Linked DNA regions of Homo sapiens: regions 2, 3 and 4 are each linked to region 1. Evidence: fine-mapped expression QTL. A gene starts in region 1. Each other region holds a variant in brackets. All regions are shown on one strand. Distances are from middle to middle.

Region 1 (5,000 bases):
GCAAAAAGTAGAGTCTGTGGGGTCTGACAGCCCTGGATTTGAATCCCTAAATAGCACCAGCCATTTGTGTGACCCCAGCCAAGTAGGGTATCCTTTCTGGACTTCAGCACTAAAAATAGCTCCCTTGCTTGGATCTTATGAGGTAAGCTTGGAGCCTAGTTTCTGCACTCAGACCTCCATTAGCAGTGGCCTTTTAAATGTATCTTTTCTGTATTCTCTGTTAAGCCCATACGCTCTTTTGTTTATTTATTCATTTAAAAAAAATAAAAAAAACCACTTTTTTTTTGAGACAGGGTCTTGCTGTCTCTCCCAGGCTAGAGTGATCATGGTTTACTGCAGCCTCGACCTGGCTGGACTCAAGCGATCCTCTTGCCTCAGTCTCCTGAGTAGCTGTGGCTACAGGTTTGTGCCATCCTGCCCAGCTAATTTTGGTATTTTTTCCAAGAGACAGAGTTTCCCTGTGTTGCCCAGGCTGGTCTTAAACTCCTGGGCTCAAGCAATCCGTCTGCTTCGGCCTCCCAAAGTGCTGGGATTACAGCTGTGAGCCACTGCACGGCCTCCATGCGGTCGTAACACCATGAGGTAGCCACGTTGGGCAGCTTGTGCGTTGTCAGGGAGACACTCTTCCTCAGCCCCTGGGCACCTCTGTTGAAAACTTCCTGGCTGTCTGGCAGGCTGGAAATCAGCTCTATTTGTTTTGCCCTGAAGATATGTTTTATTTATAACTCATTCTGACTCTGTAGAAAATAATTCAATAAAAACTCAATTGGTTTTCCACTAGCCCTGAGCAGGGATGAGGGATAGTATCTTATTTTATAACACATGTGATAATAAAACAGCCCTGGTCACATAGCCCAGAGCGGGTAAGTGCCTGCTGGCTGAAAGGAAAAATGCTGGCTCAGACCATTTCTCCCTTGCTGCTGTATGTGCTGAGAAAACCACTCCTGTCCTCTTTACTTTTCCATTTTAGGATTTTTTTTTTTTTTTTTTTTGAGATGGGCTCTCTCTGTCACCCAGGCTGGAGTGCAGTGGTGTGATCTTGGTTTACTGCAGCCCCCGCCTCCCGGGTTCAAGAGATTCTCCTGCCTCAGACTGCCTAGTAGCTGGGATTACAGGCATGTACCACCACGCTCAACTAATTTTTGTATTTTTAGTGGAGACTGGAGTTTCACCATGTTGCCCAGGATGATCTTGAACTCCTGACCTCAGGTGATCCACCCGCCTTGGCTTCCCGAAGTGCTGAGATTACAGGTGTGAGCCACCACACCCAGCCCTTTTTAGTGTTTGTTGTTGTTGTTGTTTGAGATAGAGTTTTGCAGTTGTTGCCCAGGCTGGAGTGCAATCGCATGATCTCGGCTCACTGAAACCTCTGTCTTCCAGGTTCAAGCGATTCTCCTGCCTCAGCCTGCTGAGTAGCTGGGATTACAGGCGCGCGCCACCACATCTGGCTAATTTTGTATTTTTAGTAGAGACGGGGTTTCACCATGTTGGCCAGGCTGGTCTTGAACTCCTAACCTCAAGTGATCCACCCGCCTCAGTCTCCCAAAGTGTTGGGATTACAGGTGTGAGCCATTTCTCCTGGCCAGGATTTTTTAATTGAAAAAGAAATACATGTACATGTTAAAAGATTCAAACAGAACATTAAACATACATAACGGAGAGCGGCTCTCTGTTTTCAATTTTCCCTGCGGATGCCACTGTTAATTCATGTGCTGGGCATCTTAAGTCTGTAAGCCTCCCCCATCTCCTGCTTTATTTTATTTTATTTTTGAACCCAGAGGGGTTTAAATCCTTAAATGGCTTCTGCCCGCACTTAGCAAGCTTGGCGCCTTGGCACTGAACTAACGACAGCTGTCCTAGCCCCTGTCGCCTCTTTGGAACCTTTTATGTGGATGGATTGTTGGGGCCCTCAAAGTCGGGAGTGCCATGGTGCCAGCTGGGGATCAAGACCGCGCGCCACACAGGGGGAAGCCGGCCCAGGCTGGGGCTCGCACCTCACGTGCCTCCCGGGCCCTGCGATCCTGGAGGCGCTCCCAGGCCGCGCGCGCCACGGTCACCCACCCACGTGGGGGGCACGACCGTGGGAGTCACGGGGGGTACCGTGAGGGTCACAGGGGGTGCCGCAGGGATCCACAGTGGGCTTCCGCGGGGCCTCCACCCCTGAGCTTCACAGAGGAAGTGAAATTTGAGCTGCGCGCCCTGAAGGACTGGTAAGCGGCGGGGACAGAACTGGGCCTCCTTCCAGCTGCGCCGCCCCAGGTGCAGAAGCTTTCCTCCTAGTCTCTGTTCTCTTGCTCCGGTCCCTCCCTCCCTCCTCGCTCCATCTCCCTCCATCTCCCTCCTTCCCTCCTCCTCTTCCTCCCTCCTTTCACCCCTCCTTTTTCCCTCCCTCCTCCCTCCTCCACCCTCTCCCTGTCCCCCGCTTCTCTCTCTCGCTGCCCCTCCCTCCTTCTTTCACCCCTCCTCCTCCTACTCTCCTCCTCCTCCCTCCCCGTCCCCGCTTCTCTCCCTCGCTCCTCCTCCCTCCTTCTTTCACCCCACCTTTTTCTCTCCCTCCTCCCTCCTCCTCCTCCCTCCCCATGTCCCCTCCCTCCCTGTCCCCTCTTCTCTCCCTCGCTCCTCCTTCCTCTTTTCTCCCTCGCTCCTACCCCCTTGCTTCCCTCGCGTCTCTTGCAAAACCCGGGACGGATCGGGGGCCCAGGCCTGGCCTCCGCGCACGCGCAGGAGCAGCGCCGGCTCGGCCGCCAGTAGGAAGCGCCAGCCCAGAGCCTGGGAAGTGGCCGCAGAGGCTGCTCGGCCCCGCTGCCCGCCAGGTCGTGGGCTCCCGCTCCGGGCCCGGGGCCACCGGCTGTGTAAGTGCAAAGCGGGGGGGCTCCCGGTCAGGCAATTCGGACCGGCTGCGGGGAGGGCTGCGCGGCTGGCCGTGGAGTCGGCGCGTCCCGCGGAGGGGCTCGCCCGGCCCTCACCTGTCCGGGCGGAGCCCGCCACACCTGTCCGGGTCCGCTGCCGGGCCGGGGTTCAGCGTGCACCTGCTCGAGGCGCCCTTGCTCCTGTTGGCGCTCTGCTTACATCTGTCCAAGGCCGTGTCCCACACCCGCTGAAGACTCGGCGGACACCTGTCCGGGACCCGGCCCACACCTGCTGCCCGGGCCGGCTCTGCTCTCCCGAGCTCGCGGCGGGGGTCCCCTTCCCCTCTGTGCCTCCGAGCTGTCTCCGCCTGGCTTCCCCTCCCGGGCCGTCCGCGGCGCTGGAGCCCCCCGCCCCTGGGCCTGGCTAAGCCCACTGGAGCCCGCGGGGTCTGGGACGCGCGGCTGGGGCCTGGGGCCCAGCACAGCCCACGCCCCCGGCGCTTTCCCCGCCCTGAGTTCCCGGACTTCTCCCCTAGCCCTTTCCCTCCTGTCTCCTGGATTCAAAGTGCCTGCGATCTAGCTGGGCGGCATCAGGCGGTGCTCTCTGGGATAAGCGCGCTGTCAACTCCAACTTATCCCAGGGAACCCTGGGGAGAGGAAGTCAGGCTACTGGCCTGTGGTCTTCTCCCTGTCAGCCCACCCCAATCCCCTCCACCCCTGCAGACCTTCCCAACGTGAATGTCTGTTAACCGAAAGTTTTCCCGTGTTAGGATGCGTTGTCTGTCTTCAAATGTTTCTATAGAGAGAGGAATTAAAACGCTGGAAGCAAGGCCCAGTTGAAAGGTATGGGGGAGTGACTTCCCTTCCATCCCTCACGGCCCCAGTTTAAACTGGTGACTGTCCCGTGTTTCTAAGGTAGTCATAGCTACCTATGACATCTTTATTTGTTAACCTGAAACAAAGCACCGGGTGGATGATGTTGGAGGCCCAGGAACATTGCCGTCCTAAAGATCTGGCTAGGTTTTGTTGTGTGTGTTTGTTCGTTTTTTTAATTGTGTGGAGGACTAGTAGTGTAGAGGGAAAAACAGTTGTCCGGAAACATGTAAACAATAAATGTTTCAGAAATCTAGTGTGTCAAAAATAACAGCTTCATTGAGCCTCGATTACCTGCCATAAAATCCACTGCTTTAAAGTGTACAATTCAGTGATTTTTCTTTTTTTTTTTTTTTTGAGACGGAGTCTCGCACTGTCGCCTGGGCTGGAGTGCAATGGCACGATCTTGGCTCACTGCACCCTCCGCCTCCTGGGTTCAAGCGATTCTCCTGCCTCAGCCTCCTGAGTAGCTGGGATTACAGGTGCCTGCCACCATGCCCGGCTACATTTTTTTTGTATTTTTAGTAGAGACGGGGTTTCACTCTGTTGGCCAGGCTGCTCTCGAACTCCTGACCTCGTGATCCACCCGCCTTGGCCTCCCAAAGTACTGGGATTACAGGCGTGAGCCACCATGCCTGGCCAATTCAGTAATTTTTAGTATATTCACACTTGTGTTACCATTGTCATTCCAGAACATTTTCATCACCCCAGAAAGAAACTCCATACCCATTAGCAGTCACTCCTCATTCCCCCCTCCGACAGCCCCTGGCGGCCACCGGTTTACTTTCGATATATATAGATTTGCATATTCAGGGCATTTCCTATTAATGGAATCATACAACATGTGGCCTTTTGTATTTAGCTTCTTTCATTCAGCACAGTGCTCTAAAGTTATTCATGTTGTGGCTTACATCAGCACTTTGTTCCTTTCTGTGGCTGAATAATATTCCATTGTATAGATTTAACATTTTGTGTATCAGGCAGTTGATGGACATTTGTGTTGTTTTCACTCCTTAGCTATTAAGAATAATGCTGTGCCTGGCCAGGCATGGTGGCTCACGCCTGTAATCCCAGCACTTTGGGAGGCCGAGGCGGGCAGATCACGAGGTCAAGAGATCGAGACCATCCCGGCCAACATGGTGAAACCCCCTCTCTACTAAAAATACAAAAATTAGCTGGGCATGGTGGTGGGCGCCTGTAGTCCCAGCTACTTGGGAGGCTGAGGCAGTAGAATCCCTTGAACCTGGGAGGCGGAGTTTGCAGTGAGCCGAGATCGCG
Region 2 (5,000 bases), 84 kb after region 1:
TGACCTCAGGTAATCTGCCTGCCTTAGCCTCCCAAAGTGCTGAGATTATCGGCATGAGCCACGTTGCCTGGCCTCAACACTGTGATTCTTTTTTTTTTTTTTTTTTTTTTTTTAGATGGAGTCTTGCTCTGTGCCCAGGCTAGAGTGCAGTGGCGCAATCCCGGCTCACTGCAAGTTCCGTCTCCCAAGTTCACGCCATTCTCCTGCCTCAGCCTCCCAAGTAGCTGGGACTACAGGTGCCTGCCACCACGCCTGGCTAATTTTTTGTATTTTTAGTAGAGACGGGGTTTCACTGTGTTGGCCAGGATGATCCTGATCTCCTGACCTTGTGATCTGCCCACCTCATCCTCCCAAAGTGCTAGGATTACAGGCGTGAGCCACCGCGCCCGGCCTCCAACACTGTGATTCTTTATGGACCTATCTCCTCTACTACTTCATGAAGTTTTGAGGGACCAGGTCTTATTGAAGTTTTTGTTTTGTTTTGCTTTGTTTTCATTCTTACTTTTGAATGATTAAAACTGAAAATGGATCCAATTACTTTAGACAGATGCTTTATAAAGGAAAATCCTTGGTGCATGCCTCATACCCCTACTCCGGGATATGAGAAAGTAGGTTATGTTTTTAACAAACTTTTTTGATAGACATATATGGAAAGTTTGTATAATTTTGAAGATGTATTTTCTCTCCATGTAATTATGGCTGGAAATAGCCGGAGAGAGGAGCAGAGTGTGTTTTCAAACCTGGGAATGTGTGGGGCCTGCTGTTTCCCATCCGGCATTCTCCCACGGTCATCATTTAGTTGAGTGCGGCCACCAGGCTGCCCCTACACATCTGTCACTGACTTGTTCTTCTGATCACTGCAAGTGCCCACGTTTGAGAAGGCTGATGAGGGTTAAGGCATTTTCTAGAGCATCAGTGGCTGGTTAACTTGGGGTTAGAACTTGTGGTGTCAAAGGCATTAACTAACAGTGATATTTCTGTTTCTTGAACACTCACTGAGAGTTTTAGGCTTATGCTCAGTGTTTGCATTATTTCATTGAGTCTTTTTGACAATCGTAATTAGATTTGATGATCCCTGTTTCTTAGGGATATGCAGATGTGGCCCTGGAACTCAGGACTTTACAGCTCCAGGCTGTATTCCTCCCTCTCCATCCTGCCAGAGACAAGTCCTGTGTCTGGAGTTTCCCTCTGATCTTGTCACTTTATTTCTTATTAACAGAATAAAGCAGGTCTAAACTTACTTTCTACTTGGAAATGGAATGGTGAGTTAATATTTGGATCCCTCAGAGTCTGCCTTGTGAATAAAGCTCCTTGTCTTGAGTAGTCTTGGAGCCACTTTCGTTGGAACCTCACATAAACATCTGGGCCCTGAACTTGGACTTCGTGACTGTGCAGCCTATTGAAAGATTAGAACAAAGATGTGCTGATTAATATGCCCTAAAAGAGCAGCAGGTTGGAAATGAGTTTGGGGATTTCATCTCATTTCAAGATTTCCTGAGGATCTTGGCCTAGCTTTGCCAGGGACCATTTTGTACTCCCCGGCTCCTTGTGCCATAGGTGCCTGTGTCGACCAAACATGGCTTTGTCCTGAGGCTCTCTGGGCTCATGGCTTCTCAGTCAATTGTCTGCCTAGTGCCCAAAAGCAGTTGCGCTCGAGCTTTTCCCATTAAGGAACCGTTTTAGGGCTTTAAAGTGATGTCAATTCCATTTGCAATGTAGTATTTATCATTTGACTTCTTATTACACTGAAATGATAAGAGGAATGAAGTAATATTATTACTGATCATAGTATTATTTACAACCTTTCATCTTAGATAGGTTCCATGAAAGAATCAATGGGAGTTCTAACGCATTGGTGGCCAAGGCATGTGACCTTCCCCGGCTGTCACCTTTATTTTAGATGGTGACCTCTTTACAGGCACTGGCTAAGATCAGTATTCGTCTTCTCTGCCCCCTTCTCTGCCCCAACATCTTTGATCATGTCTGGCACATAGTGGGTGCAGCTGAAGGTCTGGGCATTTCCAGATTTGTGATGAAGGCGTTAAGTACCCCCACCTCTTCTTTTTCTTTTTTTCTTTTCTTTTCTTTTTTTTTTTGACATGGAGTTTCACTCTTGTTGCCCAGGCTGGAGTGTAATGGCACAATCTTGGCTCACTGCAACCTCCGCCTCCTGGGTTCAAGCAATTCTTCTGCTTCAGCCTCTCAAGTAGCTGGGATTACAGGTATGCACCACCACGCCTGGCTAATTTTGTATTTTTTAGTAGAGACGGGGTTTCTCCATGTTGGTCAGGCTGGTCTCGAACTCCCAACCTCAGGTGATCTGCCTGCCTCGGCCTCCCAAAGTGCTGGGATTACAGGTGTGCGCCACTGCGCCCGGCCAACCCCTGCCTCCTCTTTACAGTCCTCTTCCACCCCGTCCCTGGCTGCTGTCCTCCAGCACTGGGGCTTCTGTTCGCTGCTGTACTGCACACTCCTGGAAAGGGACAGGCCATGTCCTACTCAAATTTGAATATTCACGGACCATAGACCTAGACAACAACTTCTAGATGAAAACATAGGATATCTTTGTGACCTCGGGCAAAGATTTTTCTCAGATGAGGACATAGAAGGCACTAACCATAGAAGAAAAAGCTGATAGATTGAGCTACATCACAGAGAAATGCTTTTGCTTATGAACACTCCCTTAGGGAAATAAATCGGCAACAGACCGGGAGGAAATATTTGCAAAACACATATAACTAAGGACTTGCATTCAGAATATATACAGAACTCGTACGACTCAGTAATAAAACAAACGATCTAATTTTAAAAACTGTCAGAAGATTT[G/A]AACAAGCGCTTCACAAAGGAAGATATACCAGTGGCCAGTGATCATATGAAAAAGGTTCAACATCATTAGTTTTCAGGGAAATGGAAGTTAAAGCCACCACAACGTCTAAAATAAAAAAGACTGATATCCTCATATGCTGGTGAGCAGGTGATATCCTCATATGCTGGTGAGCAGGTGATATCCTCATATGCTGGTGAGCAGGTGGAGCAACAGGGATTCTCACACATCGTCGGCGTCGGCATGACCTTTCACTGTAGGAAAAGTGGGGCTGGCAGAGATCCGATATGTAGGTAAATTGTGTGGGAGACACAGAGAAAGGACATTATGGAGTCCAGCATGGTTAGGAGAATTTAGGGAAAGAAGCAGCAGCTTCCCGCTGAAGGGCATGAGGACCAGCTTCTTGGAGAGGGTGGCATTGGAACCGAGTGTCCAAAGGGAGAGCCAGATGTGGCTGTGGAGGCATTGCAGGAGCAGAGAGCCTGTGTGCCCCGGCGGCGTCACCTAGTACAGCCTGCCTCATACGCTTCCACCCATGATTCTATGTCAAAGAGTATTTCATTGGACTTAGAGCAGCTATTTTGTTTATTTTTTCATTGATTTATTGTCATCCTCCCCACTGATTCTAAGCCAGGGGACTAGCCTGTCATTAGCATGGAGGCCCCCAGGGGTAGGAGTCTTAGCTTGTTTTGCTCACTGCTGTATCCTCTGCCACAAGAGTGGCTGGCACCAGAGTAGGGGTTCAGTAAATATGTGTTGACAGAATGAGAAAACAAATGAGTTAAAGTTGTTCAGTCTGGTGAGGTCATAGGTAGGCAGTGGGGCCTCGAATTTCCAGAGCAGGTTGGGGCTGAGGAGGGCCTGGCATGCCCGTGAAGGCATTTGGGCTCCATTTTACAGTCCTGAAGGGGTCTAGTGGTTTCAAGATGGGGATTGTCTTAGTCCGGTGAGGCTGCTGTCACAAAATGCCACAGACTGGGTGGCTGATAAACAATAGAAATGTATTGTGCACAGTTCTAGAGGCTAGAAGTCCATGATCCAGGTGCCAGCATGTTTGGTGTCTGGGGAGGGCCCACTTGCTTGTTCATAGACCGCCGTCTTTTCTCTGTGTTCTCACATGGTGCAACAGGTGAGCTAGCTCTTTAGGGTCTCTTCTTATAAGGGCACTAATTCCATTTGTGAGTGCTTCACCCCCTGACCCAATCACTTTTTAAAGTCCCCACCTCCTAATTCCATCACCTTGGGGGCTAGGCTTTCAACATGTGAATTTTGGGGAGGCACAAACATTCAAACCGTGGCTCGGGTGATGGGCTCTGAGCCATGTCTCAGGAACCTAAGTCTGGCAGGGGTGTGTGGACAGGTGAAGGAAGGTCGAGAGGTGGTAGGAAGACAATGCCGATTCCTCTTCCAGATGAGGGCTGACGAGGGCCCCATCGAGGCCATGGCAGTGAGCGCGGAGGAGAGGGGATGGAGGGAGGGTTTGGAGGCCCAAGTTGGAAGGGCGTTCAAGCTAAGGCTCTGTACTCACAGAAACATCAGGGAAACATTCATCGTCCAGGGCAGAGGAGGGAGAGAAGCGCTTCCTTAACAGTGCTCCTGGAGCAGCAGAGTGGGCTCTGCCTTCCTTCTTCTCTGAAGGCGCTGTGCAGTGGGCAGGGCCCAGGCCCAGAGTCAGGTCTTGTCCCTGATACTTCTTGGCTGTGTGATTTTGCACAGGTGATTAATGTGTCCCTGAGCTGTTAATGTCCTTATTTGCCAGCTCACAGGATGCTTGTATTGAGTAAATCAGGTACGTTAAGTCTGCTGCCATACAGTAGGTGCTGAAGAAACAGAAGTTGTTGGCTGGGCGTGGTGGCTCACACCTGTAATCCCAGCACTTTGGGAGACTGAGGCAGGCAGATCACCTGAGGTCAGGAGTTCGAGACCAGCCTGGTTAACATGGTGAAATCCCGTCTCTACTGAAAGTACAAAAATTAGCCAGCATGGGGGTGGGTGCTTGTAATCTCAGCTACACTGGAGGATGAGGCAGGAGAATCTCTTGAACCCGGGAGGTGGAGGTTGCAGTGAGCCAAGATCGTACCACTGCACTCCAGCCTGAGTGACAGAGTGAGACTCCGTCTCAAAAAAAAAAGAAAAGAAACAGAAGTTATGATTGCTACACTACAGGGTTGTTGGG
Region 3 (5,000 bases), 26 kb after region 1:
AATGAACCTGCCTTTAATGGCTCAGGATTTAGTCATCATGTTGCATAGGTCACAAAGAAGGAAGCAACAAAATAATGAAAGCAGGGATTTATTGAAAACGAAAGTACACTCCACAGTGTGGGAGTGGGCCGAGCAGCGGGCTCAAGGGCACGGATACAGAATCTTCTTGGGTCTAAATACCCACTAGAAGTTTCCCATTGGCCACTTCATGCTCACCTCTTGTAAATGAAGTGGTAGCCTGCAGTTAGTCTGATTGGTTGCGGAAAGCAGCCACTCAGAGGCTAAGGTGAAGTTACAAAGTTATGCTTCTATGCAAATGAAAAGTAGACAAAGTTATACTTCTCTGCAAACTAAGACTCCACCAGCAATCAGTCTGAGTGGTTCCGGACAGCCAGTTTCCCACCTGCCATGCAGAAAAGGTCAAAGGGAGCAGCCTCTGGTCCTTTTGTTACTTAGTCATGGAAAGTTAGGGTTTTCCTTTCAATGTAGTTGTAGGAAGTCTGTGTGAAACAACCTTAAGTTCTTTGCCTCTAGATCCTATTCTTCTGCCTCAGGCTTATCTTTTTTGTGATTGAGAAAATTTTGATTTTTTTCCTGTATCTGTAATAGATGAGAAAAGTAAAAACGTTGATTTGACATCAGTTACTTTTCCTTTATAGATTGACTACAAGGGGACATTGTTGAATAGATTATGTGTGTTTTTGTTGTTGTTGTTGTTGTTTTTTGAGACAGAGTCTCGCTCTGTCACCTGGGCTGGAGTGCAGTGGCTCAATCTCGGCTCACTGCAACTTCTACTTCTTGGGTTTTAGTGGTTCTCCTGCCTCAGCCTCCCGAGTAGCTGGGATTACAGGTGCCCGTCACCACACCTGGCTAATTTTTGTAAATTTCAGTAGAGATGCGGTTTCACCATGTTGGCCAGGCTGGTCTTGAACTCCAGACCATAAGTGATCTGCCTGCCTCGGCCTCCCAAAGTGTTGGGATTACAGGTGTGAGCCACCGCTCCTGGCCTGTGTGTTGTTTTTTGAGACAGAGTCTTGCTCTGTTGCCCAGGCTGAAGTGCAGCAGCATGATCTCGGCTCACTATAACCTCTGCCTCCCGGGCTCAAGTGATTCTTGTGTCTCAGCCTCCTGAGTAACAGGATTACAAGTGTGTGCTACCATGCCCAGCTAATTTTTGTAGAGACGAGGTTTCGCCATGTTGGCCAGGCTAGTCTCCAACTCCTGACTCAAGTGATCCACCCGCTTCGGCCTCCCAAAGTGCTGGGATTACAGGTGTGAGCACTGTGCTTGGCCGATTATGCTGTTTTAATATATAAATAAATGTGTTTGTATTTCAACAAAATTGTATGATTAATAGTTGGCAGTCCTTTGGGAAGTATTTTTTTGTAAGACACTTAGGCTATTTACTGACTGAAATATAGAGACATGACTTTTTTTTTTTTTGATACAGAGTCTTGCTCTGTTGCCCAGGCTGGAGTGCAGTGGCGCGATCTCGGCTCACTGCAACCTCCGCCTCCCGGGTTCACGTCATTCTCCTGCCTCAGCCTCCCGAGTAGCTGGGACTACAGGCGTCCGCCACCACGCCTGGCTAATTTTTTGTATTTTTAGTAGAGACAGGATTTCACCGTGTTAGCCAGGATGGTATCGATCTCCTGACTTCATGATCTGCCCGCCTCGGCCTCCCAAAGTGCTGGGATTACAGGCGTGAGCCACTGTGCCCGGCCAGACGTGACTTTTATGATTATAGGGTTGGTATAGATTAAGGTGGCTTTTGGTATAGTGCAAAATCCAAGGACTAGGAGAAAGCTTTGCCACTGATTGCTAGAAGAACAAATTCTCTGGGTCTCAACCTCACTACCTGTAGAATGAAGAGAGTGGGCCAGATGCTCGAGTTTTCTTCCTGTTCTAAGATTAGTTTCTATGAGCCTGTGTCTTCTGTTTATATTTAGGGGTGTTAAAGTTTTTGGATTAAATACTGAATACTGTTCCCTTCCTTGAAGCAGATTTCAGTATGTGCTAGTTACACTTTTAGTTATGGTCTCTGAGCATCGTATTTTAAAAAGCCCTGTTGATCATTTCTTATTATGCCAACAATTAAATTTGTTACCTTTTTTTTTCAGCAACCTGGAAAGACCTTTCTGGCCATAGGTGGCGCTGTTGTACACATATATTTTTAATGTCCTAATTTCCCTGTTGGTGAAAGAAGACTTAGACAAGGCTTCCTTCATTTGAATTTTGCTGTTGTTGTTGTTTAATGCTTTAGAATAGCACTATGCCCATTATATTTGGATACCTGGAAAAGTATTCTAGTTATTTTTATTATGTCATTTCAGCATGAAAATTTCAGATGTGCAATGTGGACAGTGGTGAAATTGGACTTTTCTTCCAATGTCAGAAGGCAGTCAGCCATGATTTATAAAAGAGATAGAAACTGTCTGGAGCACCTTAAAGCTGAA[A/G]AGAATCTGGAACTCCCTGAGTATTGCACCCAGTTTTGCATGTTTGCTAGTGGGTGGTGTTGTGGTGTCATGGAAAAGCCTCGTTCAGCTGGCTTGTGTCTGAATGCAAGTCCTACAGTTCTTTCTCAGGTGCCCCCCACCTCCTCGCTCTGCATCTATGAGCAGGGGCTCCTAATTTCTGCTTTGTAGAATTGTGAGAATTAGAGAGAATGTGTGCAAAATGTTTAGCGTGGCAGTCATCTCATAAAATATCTCACGACCATTAGCTATTATTTTATATGAAGTCATCATTTTATAGTGTTTGGAAATTACTAAGGCATTGAAATAGGAAAAATGTTTTCGTGAAGAGAGACTCAGGAAATGAAGGAAATATTTGAGGTGGGTCAGTAGTTTTTATTTTTATTTTTTTTTTTGAGACAGAGTCTCACTCTGTCGCCGAGGCCGGAGTGCAGTAGCTCACTGCAACCTCTGTCTCCTGGGTTCAAGCAATTCTCCTGCCTCAGCCTCCCGAGTAGCTGGGATTACAGGCACCCACCACTACGCCCGGCTAGTTTTTATATTTTTAGTAGAGACGGGGTTTCACCATGTTGGCCAGGCTGGTCTTGAACTCCTGACCTCAGGTGATCCGCCTGCCTTGGCCTCCCAAAGTGCTGGGATTACAGGCGTGAGCCACCGCGCCCGGCGAGGAGGGTCAGTAGTTCTTATACCCATAATTTAGCTGCAGGTTTAGAGACATGGCCGTTATGTAGCCATCTTGACCTACCCAAGCCACAGAATTATTTGTGGATTAGTATATGTTGGGGCTTAAAGGGGCCCAATAAAAACACCCCTGTTTTCTTCAACAACCAACTGAGAGACGAGACAAGAGTAAGGTAGAGAATAAAAATTCCGCCCTTATTAGTGATGAAACCACATTCTCTGCCGGGCATGGTGGCTCACACCTGTAATCCTAGCACTTTGGGAGGCCACAGTGCATGGATCGCTTGAGCCCAGGAATTTGAGACCAGCCTGGGCAACATGGTGAAATCCTATCTCTACAAAAAATACAAAAAATTAGCCTGGGATGTTGGCGCGTGCCTGTAGTCCCAGCTACTCAAGAGGCTGAGTTGGGAGGATTGCTTGAGCCCAGGAGGCAGAGGTTGCAGTGAGCTGAGATTCTGCCACTGCACTCCAGCCTGGGCTACAGGGCAAGACCTTGTCTTAAAAAACAAAAAACAACCCCCACATTTTCCATGAACTTGAGGGATGCAGAAAAATGGGCATCCTACTACTGTGTGTCCAAGATCTGGTGGCTCTGGGCCACAGCAGACCTTCCTACGAGGGGCCCTCTCCCTGTCAGCCATAGGCATGGCGGAGCAGAACATCCCGTGTGCTTCCTGAGTGCAGCACCCAAGGGCAAAAGAAGGGGTTCACATGCCCAGCTTGTCTCCCAAACTCATCTTACACCTCACTCCACTTGGGTGGGGGAGGAATGGGGGTGGGCAAGAGGTCAGTGGTGCTTAGGACAAAGCCTTTATTATGGAAACCAGAGGAGTGAAGAGCAAGTGCCATCTTCCCCCTCAGTTTAAATAGGTCATGGGGTGACAGTTCTTTCTTTGTAACACAGAAATAAGGATATCCTTTGCTATTTAGACTAGTAAGGAAATACAAAGGATGATTAGAAGGGACATTTGTAAAATCACTGTAACAGATAACATTTTTTTTTTTTTTTTGGGATGGAGTCTCACTCTGTCATCCAGGCTGGAGTGCAATGTCGTGATCTCGGCTCACTGCAACCTCTGCGTCCCGGGTTCGAGTGATTCTCCTGCCTCAGCCTCCCAAGTAGCTGGGATTACAGGCGCCTGCCACCTCGCCCAGCTAATTTTTGTATGTTTAGTGGAGACACGGTTTCGCTATGTTGGCCAAGCTGGTCTCGAACTCCTGACATCAGGTGATCTGCCCACCTCGGCCTCCCAAAGTGCTGGAATTACAGGCGTGAGCCACCACACCTGGCTGATAACATCTGTTGAACATTTAAAATGTGCTACACACATTTTATTTATTTTTATTTTTTTGAGATAGAGTCTCACTCTGTTGCCAGGCTGGAGTGCAATGGCACAATCTTGGCTCACTGCAACCGCTGCCTCCCGGGTTCAAGCAATTCTCGTGCCTCAGCCTCCCCAGTAGCTGGGATTACAGGTGTGCACCACCATGACCAGCTAATTTTCGTATTTTTAGTAGAGATGTGGGTTCACCATGTTGGCCAGGCTGGTCGCAAACTCCTGACCTCAAGTGATCCACCCACCTCGGCCTCTACACACATTTTATATACACCAATTTAACCCTTTAATCTTCACAACAACCAGATAAGGTAGGTTGGATTATTATCCCAGTTTTACAGATGTGGAAACTGAGGCATAGACAGGTTGAGGAACTTGACCAAGGTTATGGAGCTAGTAAGTGGCAGAGCTGGGATTTAAATCCTGGCAGTTGGCCAGGTGCAGTGGCTCACACCTGTAATCCCAGCACTGGGAGGCCACGGTGGGCAGATCACGAGGTCAGGAG
Region 4 (5,000 bases), 48 kb after region 1:
ACGTTGATGCATTCAATACCTTTATCTACCCCCCAGACCTTATTTGCATTCCACCAGCTGTTCCAATACAGCAGTTCTATTTCCTGATGCGGGATCCAGTCCAGGATCACACACGGCATTTAGTGTTTATGGCACTTAGTATCGTCTCAGCCTATCTTCGTTTTTCATGATAATTGATATTTCTGAAGAATGCAGGCCATTTATTTTGTGGAATGTTCTCACTTTGTGTTTGCCTGAAGTTGCTTTTTGATTATGAGGTTTTGCATTTTGGCAGGGCAGAAGGAGGGGTCAAGTGATCCATCATGCATTAAATCAGAGGCACATGAGGTTCATTTGTCCCATTACTGGTGAGGCTAACTTTGATAATTGGTTAAAGTGGAGTCTGATGGAGTTTTCCACTGTAAAGTTACTATTTTTCTCGATGTAAATAATAAGTAATTTGTGGGAAATAGTTTGAGACTGTATACATCTTGTTTGTCATCACACTTTCACCCACTGGTTCTGGCTGATTCAGTGAAGAGTTTCACCTGAGTCAGTTATTACTGTGCTGGCTGCCAAATGGCGATTTTCTTGCTTCATCATTCCTTATGTGTTTATTCGCATTTTACTATAAGCAGGAGCTTTTTTTTTCTTTTCTCCTTCTTTCTTTCCATCCATCCACTTATTGTTATGGACTTATGGATCATTATTTTTTTAGTAGGTTCTAATCCATTGCTATTATTCTTTATTTTGTAGCTCATTGGCTAGATTTGGCCAATGGAAGCTCTTCAAGCTGATTCTTAAAACCTTTTGACATGTTCCTCAATCAGTTATTGAACATATGTTTACTTTCAGGCTCAAGATATTTTAGGTTCAGGCCGGGCACGGTGGCTCATACCTGTAATCCCAGCACTTTGGGAATTTGAGGCAGGCAGATCACCTGAAGTCAGGAGTTCAAGACCAGCCTGGCCAACATGGCAAAACCCCGTCTCTACTAAAAATACAAAAATTAGCTGAGCGTGGTGGTGGGTGCCTGTAGTCCCAGCTACTTGGGAGGCTGAGGCAGGAGAATCGCTGGAACCTGGGAGGCGGAGGTTGCAGTGAGCCAAGATTTCGCCACTGCACTCCAGCCTGGGCGACAAGAATGAGACTCCATCTCAAAAACATAGAAAGATATTTTAGGTTCATTTTGTACTTTCCCTGTTCCAGCTCTGGAATCGGACGTTTTTCTAAGGAGTTTTAGTTTCTTTTGTTGGAAAGTGGTATTTAGAAACCAAGGTCTGGTCACTAAGCATGCTCATTGCTCCTAAGGTTCATTGATTCTAGGCCCTTTGAGAAGTTCTACTGTTATGTCAAGTTCATACTAACTAACTAACAAAACCCGTACCTAGAGTTAGAGTTCAAGGATTGGTTGTGGTTCTTTTGGTTATTTATCCTTGGTCATGATACCAAGGATAAATACACAGGGTGCTGCAGTCAGAGGTTACTTGAATTTGTCCTTTAATGCTTCCTGTCAGTGTGATTATGTTATTTGAAATGTAATTATTGCTGTTTATATATCATTAATGAGTTTCCCCATCTTTGCTGATTTTTAAAATCTTTTTTCCTTTTTTTATTTTTACAGTTCTTTGAGTTGCTGTTTTATATTTCTAAATCTATATAATTTTTTTTTTTTTTGAGACAGTCTCGCTCTGTCACCCAGGCTAGAATGCAGTGGTACAGTCTCAGCTCACTGCAAGCTCTGCCTCCTGTGTTCACGCCATTCTCCTGCCTCAGCCTCCCGAGTAGCTGGGACTACAGGTGCCCGCCACCACGCCTGGCTAATTTTTTGTATTTTTAGTAGAGATGGAGTTTCACCATGTTAGCCAGGATGGTTTTGATCTCCTGACCTTGTGGTCCGCCCGCCTCGGCCTTCCGAAGTGCTGGGATTACAGGCGTGAGCCACTGCGCCCGGCCTTTTTTTTTGTTGTTGTTTTATTTTTGAGATGGAGTCTTGCTCTGTTGCCCAGGCTGGAGTGCAGTGGCATGATCTTGGCTCACTGCAATCTCTGCTTCCCGGGTTGAAGCAATTCTTGTGCCTCAGCCTCCTGAGTAGTTGGGACTACAGGCGCATGCCACCATGTCTGGCTAAATTTTGTATTTTTAATAGAGCTGGGGTTTTACCATGTTGGCCAGGCTGGTCTTGAACTCCTGGCCTCAGGCGATCTGTCTGCCGCAGCCTCCTAAAGGGCAGGGCTTACAGGCATGAGCCATTGCGCCTGGTCAAATCTATATAAAATGTTAATATGATTCCAAAAATCAAAACTATATAAAAAGGGTTACCCAGAGAAGTGCCACTTCCTCTCCTATTTTTTTTTTTTTTTTTTTTTTTTTTTTGGAGACAAGGTCTCATGCCCTCACCCAGGCTGGAGTGCAGTGGCATGATCACAGCTCACTGCAGCCTTGGCCTTCTGGGCTCAAGCAGTCCTCCTGCCTCAGCCTCCCAAGTAGCTGGGAATCACAGGCGTGTGCCACCATGCCTGGCTAATTTTCATGTGTTTTTTTGTGGAGATGGGATTTTGCCACGTTGATCAGGCTAGTCTTGAACTCTTGGGCTCAACCCAGGAGCCTTCCTTGGCCTCCCAAAGTGCTGGGGTTATAGGTGTGAGCCACTGCGCCCAGCGCCTCTCCTATTCTTTCCACCTCATTTCCCTACCCTTATATCATTTGTTCCTGGCCTTTTCTTCTTCTTATTTTTTAAATAAACACATTAATGTTCTTAATTCTTTTTCTTGTGCAAAAGGTAAGATATTACATATATTCTTTTGTACTTGGTGTTTTTTGTTCTATTTTGGTTGCTAATGTATCCTGGAGATCAGTCCATATCAGCTTATGGAGATCTTTCTCATCCACTTTCACAGCTGCGTGGCACACTAAGTGTGCAGGTACCGGGTTTTATTTCACCACTCTTCTGCATGTGGATGTTTGATTGTTTCCAGTGTTTGGGAGTTACAGATAATATATCAGCAAATCACATT[G/A]CATAGGTATGTTTCTGTACTGTTGAAGGTGTGTCTTCAGTGTAAATTCCTAGAAGTGGAATTACTGGGTCAAAAAGTAAACATAAATGTAGTGTTACTAGATCCTGCCAAAGTCTTCTTCATAAAGGCCGCATCATTCGCACTCACAGTAGCAGTGCATGCGAGTGTTTTCTACATATATACACCAACACTGTGTGTTGTCAGGCTTTTAACATTTTTGCCAACTAGATACGTGACAAATGGCATCTCTTACCATTAATGAAGTTGAATATCTTTTTAAATGCTTAAGGGTCATTTTTATGTTTTTCTTTTATGAATTATCTGCCCAAATCTTTTGGCCATTTTTTTTTTCTGTTGGATTTTTAGTTGTGTTTTTCTTTTTCAACTTTTGTGACCTTGATGTATGTGGAATTAGCCGTTTGTGATATATGTTGCATATATTTTTAAATCAGATTATCATTTATGTTTTGCTGTGTTTATAGTAATTTTGCTGAGTTTTTATGTGGTTGAATATATTAGTCTTTTATTGCGTTTAGGTTTGTGTGATAGAGAGCCTTTTCCTTTGTCCAGGTTTTAGAGGAATTTACCTGTGTTTTTTGAACTATGGTTTTCTGTTTTACATTCAGATCTCAGATCCATTTGGAGTTTACTCTTGTGTCTCCTGTGAGGTGTGGGTTTGATTTTTTTTTTTTTTTTTTCCAAATGGCCACTCAGGTGTCCCAGACCATTATTAAAAAGTCCATCTTGGCCCCAGTGATTCCAGGCACTGTGTCCTGGTGCTGGAGGACTCGATCCCACCCTGTGGCTTATGGATGCCTTGTCTTCCTGCCATTCCTCTGCAAAATAAAGCCTACAGTGCCCACGTAGCAGGGTTTTTGCTTTGTAGTTGGACAGCAGATGTTAGTGACCCAGGCTGGTGCTAGCCTGTTAGCCATTGCTGAAATTATTGCCACACTGGTTCTTGGTGTATCTAAGCCCTTTTTGTGCTTCTCTCTAGGAGAGAAAGGCAAACCTTTCTCAAGCGGCATCCATCTCTGCTGTCTTCCTTCTTTTTTTTGCTTTATCTTATGTGTATGTCTGGGTTTCCAGTTTTGTGCCTTGTATACAGTCTTGTGTGGTAGCAGCTCAGTACCTATCTCTTTAGTGAATGATGAAAGCATTGTTGGGCTGATACTTGAGAACCTTTTTGGTGGTGCCTTTTTCAACCTTCCCCCCTCCCCGTGACTTCTCATCCATGCTCTTTCTTTGTCTCTCCTCCCATCTGGGTCTTAGCCTCCTGTGGCATTGATTTTCCTGCCTGTAATCTACAGGCTATGGGTCTTGATGGCTCTGGTCCACTAGTTCATGATGACATCTCATACGGGCTGTCACAACTTTACAGATGTCAAGAAAGATCAAATCTATGGCTTACTAGTGTTTCTAGAACTTATTAGTCTTTTGTTGAATGAAATTAAATTGGTCTGACCCACTAAGCTCTCTTGGGAGCGATGCTCTTGTTATTTTCCTATGGTTTATATTTTTCTTGGTTGCTCCACATAGAAATTTTTCCTCTAGCCTTGATGTTGAAATTAAGTTTATCAGCTAGACGCAGTGGCTCACACCTGTAATTCTAGCACTTTGGGAGGTCGAGTTGGACAGATCGCTTGAGGTCAGGAGTTCAAGACCAGCTTGGCTAACATGGTGAAACCCCATCTCTACTAAAAATACAAAAATTAGTGGGGCTTGCTGGTGGGTGCCTGTCATCCCAGCTACTTGGGAGGCTGAGGCAGGAGAATCACTTGATTGTAGCGAGGAGGGGGGTTGTAGCGAGCTGAGATCGTGCCACTGCACTCCAGTACCACTGCACTCCAGCCTGGGTGACAGAGAGAGAGACTCTGTTTCAAAGAAAAAAGAAATTAAGTTGATCAAATTAGCCCTCATGACTGGAGATGCCCTTTCTTTAAAAGGTGGAGGGAGCACTTGTTCCTTCTCCGTCGGGGGGATTTCCCTCTTATGCTTTGATCA

Alleles and levels. Positions count from the first base shown, and alleles are read on the strand shown. Sizes are in standard deviations (SD) of each study's normalised expression. Not every link is listed here.
With allele G in place of A in region 3, the expression in gastroesophageal junction of the gene that starts at base 2,747 in region 1 is lower (small effect, 0.24 SD a copy in GTEx).

Evidence for each region. PIP is the estimated chance that this variant, and not a neighbour inherited with it, causes the effect.
Region 2: its variant is the best candidate, but not a certain one, in a credible set for the expression of TRAPPC9 in whole blood (INTERVAL, PIP 0.65).
Region 3: its variant is the best candidate, but not a certain one, in a credible set for the expression of TRAPPC9 in gastroesophageal junction (GTEx, PIP 0.74).
Region 4: its variant is the best candidate, but not a certain one, in a credible set for the expression of TRAPPC9 in skeletal muscle (GTEx, PIP 0.54).

Annotation. Positions count from the first base shown.
Region 1 is chr8:140,455,491-140,460,490 of GRCh38, reverse strand. It overlaps TRAPPC9 (trafficking protein particle complex subunit 9), which reads left to right and starts at 2,747. Exons shown (of 23, transcript NM_001160372.4): 1 at 2,747-2,852. RefSeq lists silencers at 1,893-2,202, 2,323-2,562, 2,653-3,042, 3,153-3,202 and an enhancer at 1,975-2,493.
Region 2 is chr8:140,371,667-140,376,666 of GRCh38, reverse strand. The region is part of intron 7 of TRAPPC9 (trafficking protein particle complex subunit 9); the gene reads left to right. Among named protein-coding and RNA genes, the nearest start is that of TRAPPC9, 84 kb to the left of the region's middle. The variant G/A (reference allele first, on the strand shown) is at 2,827.
Region 3 is chr8:140,429,315-140,434,314 of GRCh38, reverse strand. The region is part of intron 4 of TRAPPC9 (trafficking protein particle complex subunit 9); the gene reads left to right. Among named protein-coding and RNA genes, the nearest start is that of TRAPPC9, 26 kb to the left of the region's middle. The variant A/G (reference allele first, on the strand shown) is at 2,457.
Region 4 is chr8:140,407,497-140,412,496 of GRCh38, reverse strand. All of the region lies in intron 5 of TRAPPC9 (trafficking protein particle complex subunit 9), which reads left to right. Among named protein-coding and RNA genes, the nearest start is that of TRAPPC9, 48 kb to the left of the region's middle. The variant G/A (reference allele first, on the strand shown) is at 2,997.